Linked DNA regions of Homo sapiens: region 2 is linked to region 1. A link means that fine-mapping ties the variant in region 1 to the expression of a gene that starts in the linked region. Tissue or cell type: whole blood. Region 1 holds a variant in brackets; the other region holds the start of a gene. All regions are shown on one strand. Distances are between the middles of the regions.

Evidence for each region. PIP is the estimated chance that this variant, and not a neighbour inherited with it, causes the effect.
Region 2: it holds the start of AGO4, and the variant in region 1 is the best candidate, but not a certain one, in a credible set for the expression of AGO4 in whole blood (INTERVAL, PIP 0.52).

The regions. Positions count from the first base shown.
Region 1 is chr1:35,709,264-35,713,652 of GRCh38, forward strand. No RefSeq gene overlaps it. Among named protein-coding and RNA genes, the nearest start is that of C1orf216, 7.4 kb to the right of the region's middle. The variant C/A (reference allele first, on the strand shown) is at 2,248.
Region 2 is chr1:35,806,257-35,810,645 of GRCh38, forward strand. AGO4 (argonaute RISC component 4) reads left to right here and starts at 1,760. Exons shown (of 18, transcript NM_017629.4): 1 at 1,760-2,179. The coding sequence starts at 2,161. CLSPN-DT (CLSPN divergent transcript) reads left to right here. Exons shown (of 3, transcript NR_199050.1): 3 at 489-684. RefSeq lists enhancers at 934-1,433, 2,533-2,812 and silencers at 1,643-1,852, 2,133-2,382.

The DNA of each region.
Region 1 (4,389 bases):
CAGGAAGCCTTCCTTGACCAGGCCCTTACAGATCTCGCCTCTCTCCTGTTCCTGTCACCTGTTCATGCTGAGAGTAGGAGCAAACCTACCTACACAGGGTTTCCGGTGAGGCTTGAAGGCTAAGAGGCAGGTAGACAGGTCACAGGCTGCCATCATGGGGCAGTCAGTCTCCTTAGAGATAGCCATTATACAGAGCCCTAACAAGCCAGATCCCCCACCGGGGAGCCCACCTATGATATTCTGAAGCCTTTTTCTGCAGTCTTCTAATGCTTTACCCTCTTACTCAGTTCCCAGTTCATTTTCTGCCTCCCTGCACTCAGGCTTTAACCCCATTTACTCTGACCATACTTGATGGGGCTGACCTAGTTGGTGTCCCTGGAGAGCAAGCAAGTTCTCAGTGCACCCAGCCTCACAGGCCTCTCTGCTAATCCCTTCCATGCTTTCCATCCTGTACCTGCAGCCTACTCAGGCCTCTGCTGTGTGCCCTGCCCGTGTTGGTCTCTGGGTCTCTGCTCCAATCTCATCCCTATGTCTCCTACTAAGCAAGATGACTCATGTCGCACCCAAAACCTAGGTTAGACTTCCTTGGGATTTTATTCTGGTGAGAGAGGTGAAGGGGTGGAGGTAGCTGACTGGCCAAACTCCTACCAAGTGCATGAACCTTTCCTACTCCCCTCACTGTCCCACGGACTAAGGAATTCCTACCCCAATGACTTTTTTTTTTTTTTTTTTTTTTGAGACAGTCTCACTCTGTCACCCAGGCTGGAGTGCAGCGGCACGATCTTGGCTCACTGCAACCTCCACCTCCCAGATTCAAGCAATTCTCCTGCCTCAGCCTCCCGAGTAGCTGGGATTACAGGCATGTACTATCATGCCCAGCTGATTTTTATATTTTTCATAGAGACAGGGTCTCACCATGTTGGCCAAGCTGGTCTCGAACTCCTGACCTCAAATGATCCACCCGCCACAGCCTCCCAAAATGCTGGGATTATAGGCATGAGCCACCGCACCTGGCCCAATGACTTTAAGACAACAACCACGTATAGAAGTCCCTGACTGAAAACTAGACAGACAGCCAGTCCTGCATTCCCCTCTCCTAGGTTACGAGTGGCTTGTGCATTAGGCTTTTGGGGTCTTTTTGTTGGGGAGGGGGTTGAGACAGGGTCTTGCTCTCTCACCCAGGCTTCAGTGCAGTGGTGGGATCATAGCTCACTGCAGCTTCAAATTCCTGGGCTGAAGTGATCCTCCAGCCTCAGGCTCCTGAGTGGCTAGGACCACAGGCATGTACCACCATGACTGACTAATTTTTTTTCCCTTTTTGTAGGGATGGAGTCTTAAACTCTTGGCTCAAGCCATCCTACTGCCTCAACCTCCCAAAGTGTTGGGATTACAAACATGAGCCACTGTGCCCAGCCTGCATTAGGCTTTTGGATGCAAGTCTCATCTACCTGTGCACACCACAGCTCTCAAAGACAAGAGCAGGCTCCTCAGGGCCTCATGCAGGGGAGGCACACAATCTTCTTAATCCATACAGAGCATCTTCACGTCCATTTCCTCATTCAGCCCTTATAGTTGCCACAGGTGAGGAAACTGAGTATAGAGAGTGTAGCTCAGATCTGCCTATGGGAGGTACTGTGGTCACCTTAGCACTTCCCATGATTAGGCCTCGTGGCCAGTGGACCTGATGGAGAACCACAATTCTTGGCTGAGTTGGTTCAGCCACTGGAGTCCTGCCTCCGTTTCCCTGCCCCTAACTCTGCCGTCCTGGGCTGTGGCTCTATTCTTGCCAATCTCCTTCCCAAACCCATCATCCCCCGGGGAGTCCCTGACCTTCAGTGACTGGCAGGGGTCCTGTAAACATACAATTCACCACACATTCCCTTGGTCTCACCTTCTTCTTTTTCTCAGCTCAAAGAGTTCTTTTCTGGAAAGGAATATTAGGCAGCTTTATTTTTTAGAAGTCCCCTTCCCCTTTAAAGATGACATTCAAATTTTAGATTCAGCCAGGTGCGATGGCTCACACCTGTAATCCCAGCAGGTGGGGAGGCTGAGGCGGATCACTTGAGGCCAGGAATTAGAGACCAGCCTGGCCAACATGGTAAAACCCCATCTTTACCAAACATACAAAAAAATTAGCCAGGCGTGGTGGTGCATACCTGTAATCCCAGCTACTCGGGAGGCTGAGGCATGAGAATTGCTCAAACCCAGGAGGCGGAGGTTGCAGTGAGCCAAGATCACACCACTACA[C/A]TCCAGCCTGGGCGACAGAGCCAGACCCTGTCTCAAAAAAAAAAAAAATTTTTTTAGATTCCAATTTCATAAGAAAAAATGTTTTTCTATGAAAAAGCTGTATGTACCAAAAAAGTATGATTTATAATAATCATAATTCATTAATGTAACTTACTATGTGTCAGGTACAATTCTAAGTCTTCTATATATTACATATTTAATCCTTGCAGCAACCCTGCGAAGTAGTTATTACTATTATTCCCATTTTAAGATGAGGAAACTAAAGCACAGAAAAGTTAATTGACTTGCCCAAGGTCACAAAAACATAAAACAATGGGGACAAGGTCCAAATCCAGGGTGTCTGGCTTCAGGGTCTCTGTCCTTCACCAGGGGCTGTGTTCAAAAGAGCCCTCACACATTTAGAAAAGGGGCTCCTGGCCGGGCATGGTGGCTCATGTCTGTAATCCCAGCACTTTGGGAGGCTGAGGTGGGCCGATTGCCCGAGCTCAGGAGTTTGAGACCAGCCTGGGCAACATGGCAAAAACCCATCTCTACTAAAAATACAAAAAATTAGCCAAGCGTGGTGGCATGTGCCTGTAGTCCCAGCTGCTTGGGAGGCTGAGGTAGGAGAATGGCTTGAACCCAGGAGGTGGAGGTTGCAGTGAGCCAAGATCACACCACTGCACTCCAGCCTGGGCAACAGAGTGAGACTGTCTCCAAAAAAAAAGGCTCCTTATAAAAATTCACCCTCTTATGCTCTGAAGGTTTGACAGACATCTTATTGTCAGAAATCTCCATTCAAATTTAGCCTTAGCCCTTTGCCAAAACATCTCTTAGTAAGTGGAATTTGTAAAAATTGGTTCAATACTATTTCTGTTTAAGTGTCAAGTGTGGAGATGACAAGAATTATTAACTGTTTCAGTGAGAAGTATACTTTGTGAAGTTTAAAATAAATATGTTGCCAGGCACAGTGGCTCCCAGCACTTTGGGAGGCCGAGGCGGGCAGATCACGAGGTCAGGATATTGAGACCACAGTGAAACCCTGTCTCTACTAAAAATACAAAAAATTAGCTGGGCGCGGTGGCGGGCGCCTGTAGTCCCACCTACTCGTGAGGCTTAGGCAGGAGAATGGTGTGAACCCGGAAGGCGGAGCTTGCAGTGAGCCGAGATCGCGCCACTGCACTCCAGCTTGGGCAACACAGTGAGACTCCGTCTCAAAAAAATAATAATAATAAAATAAAATAAAATAAAATAAAAATGTTGGCCAGGCGCAGTGGCTCACACCTGTAATCCCAGCACTTTGGGAGGCTCAGGTGGGAGGATGGCTTGAAGCCAGGAGTTTGAGACCAGCCTGGGCAATATAGCAAGAAGCCATCACTACAAAAAACTTAAGAATTAGCTGGGTGTGGTGGTGTGTGCCTGTAGTCCCAGCTACTCAGAGGCTAAGGTGGGAGGATCACTTGAGCCCAGAAGTTCAAGGGTACAGTGAGCTATGATTGCACCACTATGCTCTAGCTTGGGCGTATCTTGGAGACGCTGTCTCCAAAAATAAAGAATCAAATCAAATAAAAATAAAATACAGTATTTCAGATTTGTGAATTTTGGTATCCCTGGGGATCCTGGAACCAATCCCCTCAGATAACAAAGGATGACTGTATATTATAACTACATGTGTGTCAAAACCATCTAAGGACCCGAAATCATAGTCATAGTCAGAGCGCCCTTCAGGGAAGTGATGACACCAGGGTACTTGGTGTTTTATTTTTTGTTTTATTTGGTTTTTTGAGATGGAGTTTCCCTCTTGTTGCCCGGACTGGAATGCAGTGGCACGATCTCTGCCCACTGCAACCTCTGCCTCCCAGGTTCAAGCGACTCTCCTGCCTCAGCCTACTGAGTAGCTGGGATTACAGGCACCCGTCCCCACGTCTGGCTAATTTTTGTATTTTTAGTAGAGACAGGCACCATGTTGGCCAGGCTGGTCTTGAACTCCTGACCTCAGGTGATCCACCCATCTCAGCCTCCCAAAGTGCTAGGATTACAGGTGTGAGCCACCGTGCCCTGCCCAGGGTACAGTTGAGTATGTACGAGTGTGTATGGTATGTGTCCCTCGCAATTCATTTAGGCCCAAAGGTGACACAGGACAAGGACAATCCCATATGGGGC
Region 2 (4,389 bases), 97 kb after region 1:
AATAAAAGTCCTAGTTCCATAGCCAATCAGGGAGAGAATTAGCCAGGACTTAAATGCAAGATTTGAACTCCAATTTTTCCCATGCTTCACTTCAGCATCATGTAATGCAAAGCCCGACTTACTTAACTTCCCTGAGCTTCGGTGTCATCATCTGTACAAATACCTTTCTTAACAATATCTACCTTACTGGTGGTTGTAAAGATTGAGTGACAATGAGAAGCCCATAGCAGAGTGCATGGCCAGGATGTGATGCTAATATTTTTTATCATTACATAAAAAAACTACCTGGCTCTGTGACAGCACATGGCAGGTGCTCAAATGAATATCCCACCACACATGCTAGGGGCCTAAATTATCCCCCACCCCAATAATTTGTATATTGAAGTCCTAACTCTAGCACCCCAGGATGTGACTGTAATTGGAAACAGGGTCTCTGAAGAGGTAATTAAATTAAAACGAGGTCACTAGAGTGAGCCCTACTCTAATAGGACTGCTGTCCTTATAAGAAGAGGAAATTTGGACACAGACGTGCACAGAGGGAAGACCACGTGAAGTCACTGGGAGAAGGCCACTATCTACCAAGTGAAGGAGATAGGCCTCAGAAGGAACCAACCCTGCCTACATCGTATCTCTGACTGCCAGCCTCCAGAATTGTGAGAAAATAAATTTCTGTTGTTTAAGCCACCCAGTCTGTGGTACTTTGTTACGTTATGCCGTAGCAAAGGAATACAACACACACACACAAACTCATCGTACCTTTTCAATTGGTGGACAAGGGGCTCCTTCCTTCTGCTGACTAGAAACTGCTTCTTGGCCTGTTGTCCAGTGTTCTCCCACTCAAAGTCCTTACTGAAAGCCCTAAAGATGCTGTGCCTGCTGGGCTGACCATGCTGCCTTGGAGGTGGTGCTGCTCCCTTGGCTTTTGTCTGCTAAGGGGAAGGCATCCAAGAAAGCAAGACCTTTCTCTCTCTCTCTCTCTTTTATTTTTATTTTTTTTTTTTCAGACAGTCTTGCTCTGTCGCCCAGGCTGGAGTGCAGTGGCCCGATTTCGGCTCACTGAAACCTCTGCCTCCCGGGTTCAAGCGATTCTCCTGCCTCAGCCTCCCAAGTAGCTGGGATTACAGGCGCCTGCCTCCACGCCCGGCTAATTTTTTGTGTTTTTAGTAGAGATGGGCTTCCGCCATGTTGGCCAGGATGGTCTCAAACTCCTGACCCCAGGTGATCCACCCGCCTCCGCCTCCCAAAGTGCTGGTATTACAGGCGTGAGCCACCACGCCCGGCCAAGACCTTTCTCTTCTAAAGTGACTGGTGATTTGCTGACCAGAGGCGCTTGTCATGGGACCAGGGAGGGAATGCATCATTCATCAGGGTCCATTCCCGTGGTGCCTTCCGGCTATACGGAGAGGGACGCGCAGTTGGGTGTGTGGTGCTGAATGAAGGGATGAAGGAGGACTGCTAGCGTCTAAGGTGACCCTAAAAGACGAGATGACAGAAGCGATCTGGGGTGGGAGGAGGGAGGAGGGAGGCGAGGTGGCTCCTGTGAATCTCAGTACACTTTCCACTCACAGAAGTGGAAAACTGAATCTGTGGGTCAGCGGAACTGGAATCCAGATCTTTTGCAGGACGCCCTGGGGGGATGGCACGTAGCCCCCAGAGCCGTTGGCCACCGGACGGCCTCCTCGGGTGGACGGGGCAGAGCGGGCCAGCGGGCGCGTGCCCGACACGTCCACCGGGCTCTGCACCCTCCGGGCGCGCGCTCGTTCCCCGACCCGCCTCGCCGCCTGCCGGGCTCTGTGGACCCCGCGCCCGGGGCCGCGCACGCCCCCTCCGCCCGCCGGGACCCTGGGTCCGCGCACCCCGCGCCCCCTTCCCTCCCGGCGGGCGCGCGCGCTGGCTCCCGCTCCCGCTCCCGTTGGCGGCGGCGGCGGCGGCGGCGGCGGGGATTGTTTTTGTTGTCGCTGAGGCCGGAAGAGCCGGAGCCGGGTCCCTGTCCCCGGGCCGGGCGCCGCCGCCGCCCCCTGCCCAGCGCCCGCGTCTCCGCGGCGCCACCCCAGCGCCAATATTCCGGAGATCAAGCGTTACGCGGCGGCGGCGGCGGCGGCGGCGGGGCCCGGAGCGGGAGGCGCCGGGGACCGGGGCGAGGCGGCCCCCGCCGCCGCCATGGAGGCGCTGGGACCCGGTGAGGAGCGAGCTCGGGTCGGGGCGGGACCCGGGACCCGGGACCCGGGGCGGGCGGCCGGGACTTTCGCTGCCCCGTCGCCTCGCCGGGTTCGGGCCGCCAGGCCTCGGGGAAGGGGACCCGAGCCCCGCAGCACGAAGCGGAGGGAGCTGACCCGGGCCTGGGGGGCGGTGACCGCGCCCCAGCCGGCCGTTGGGTGGATCCCGAGGTCCAGGGGGGAGGTTCGGGAAGGTGACCGGCGCTGCCGGGCGGAGGCCACTCTTGGCCCCACCTCGGGGAGACGATATGTGCCCGGGGTCGCGACGAGGGTAGTTTGGGCCTCAGAAGGGGGCGATCCGCTACCCAGTGCGCGCGGAGGCCTGGCCCAGACCGGGAAAAGGGCCCCGCTGCCTACTACCAGCCGGTAGTCCTGGTTTGGGGCCGCGCCCCTATTTTTCTTTGCACTGGCAGATGGTCCAGAGCCTTCAGATGAGGAAGAAGAACTTCATCCAAACACCTCTCATGATCTCTGAAGGTCAAGGGACAAAATGCCCACCCTTTCTGAAAGGCCCTGATGTCCCAAAGAACATGGTCCTGTGCCTCTGTCACTCAGTCTGTGTGTTAGTCTCAGAGTGGTCTGAGCCAGCCTTTGAGTGACACAGGAGTTGCCAGTCAGTCTGCTCCACCACAGGCTTCAATGCCCTGAGTTCTCTTCTAATTGGGTTATGAGTGGTTGTGAGGATCAAATGAAGGAGAAAGTGCTTTGGAAACTAATTTGTTGTGGATATGGATGGCCTCTGGTTATTTCTCTCTATCCAAACCAGAAGAACCATTCCAGGCTGTAACAAGTGTCCTGAGTATTGGGGCCTGGTGCTTCCACCTCAAAGCCCAACAGGTTTCTAATGCCTTGGCTAAGTAGCTCAGTGTTTAGGGGCTGTGGTGGAATTCACTTTAATATTCAAACTTTACCTACATAATGAACTTAGTCGTAGAGTGTTTCATCTTTTTAGTGCGTAGAAAATTCGAGTTGCCATTTGAGTTTGGAAACTTGGCACGTTTGTTTACTTAGCACTTGTTTGCATAGCTGAGTGATTAAGCCCCACCCTAATTTGCTTCTTAAAGTATTGTTTAAAGGCCCTCATAATCAAATTTCATATGCCTTTTAAAAATAAATTGGCTTGCCGCATTAATATTGTTTGATAAACTTCAGTGTATTATGCCAGGTTAACTTCAGATATGTCCCCTGGCTAAAGACATGCTCAGGTCTTTAGGAATGTAACAGATTCAATCTAGTAATGTAATAGTTGTATGACCCTGGGAAAATTACTCAATTCCTTTGAACTTTCATTTTCTCGTCTATAAATTGAGGGTAATAATAAGTATGTTCTGTAAGATTGTTGAGAGAATGAAATGAGAGTATATGATAAGTCTTATTGTAGAGACTAGTGCCTATAGATGCTCAACAGATGTTTCTTCCCTCCCCCTAGTAATTCATAATTGAAACAACTGTTGCATTTATGATCTGATATCGAAAGAAATTGTGTAACTGTGGGCATAAACTGAATTTCATGGAAAGGATCAACCTGGTGATATTAGGCACTGCCCAGGGACTCTTTTTTTTTTTTGTTTTGATTTTAGCTTTTGCAGGTTTGAGGACTTAGTGGTTCACTCAGGATTGTTCAGATTGTGGAAAATTAATTCTCACTAACCACATTTATAAGACACTAATGAATAAGCCAAAATGTCACATGGATCTTTTCTGTTGAGTGGAATATTTTCCTGTCTGCTCTCTAGCAAACTCCTTTTTTGGTGTTGCAGTACCTTGGAAACCCAACTAATAAGTAGCTGCCTGCTAAGCATAGAATCAGAGCAAAGGGAGTTGATCGTCTTGTGGGATGATTCATCCAGGCTGTTTTAGAACCTAGAGAATCATCCCTGCTTCTTTGGCAGAGCACACCTGGATCTAGTGCTTTGTGCCCTCCTCACTTGAACAGTCCCTGAAGCCTTCTAGTCTTGTTCTATCCCTCCCTGCCCACCGCCTCCCTGCAACCTAGTTCAGTTTCTGCCAATACTCAGAAATATAATTAATTAGATTTCCACTTATTTTGGTAATATGTTGTTTGCAGTACTTTATAGTTTGTAAAGTGCTTTTATGACTATTAGCTCATTTGATCCTCTGGGAGGTAGGCAGGGCAGGTAGTTATTCCATTTTACAGATGAGAAAAGTGAGG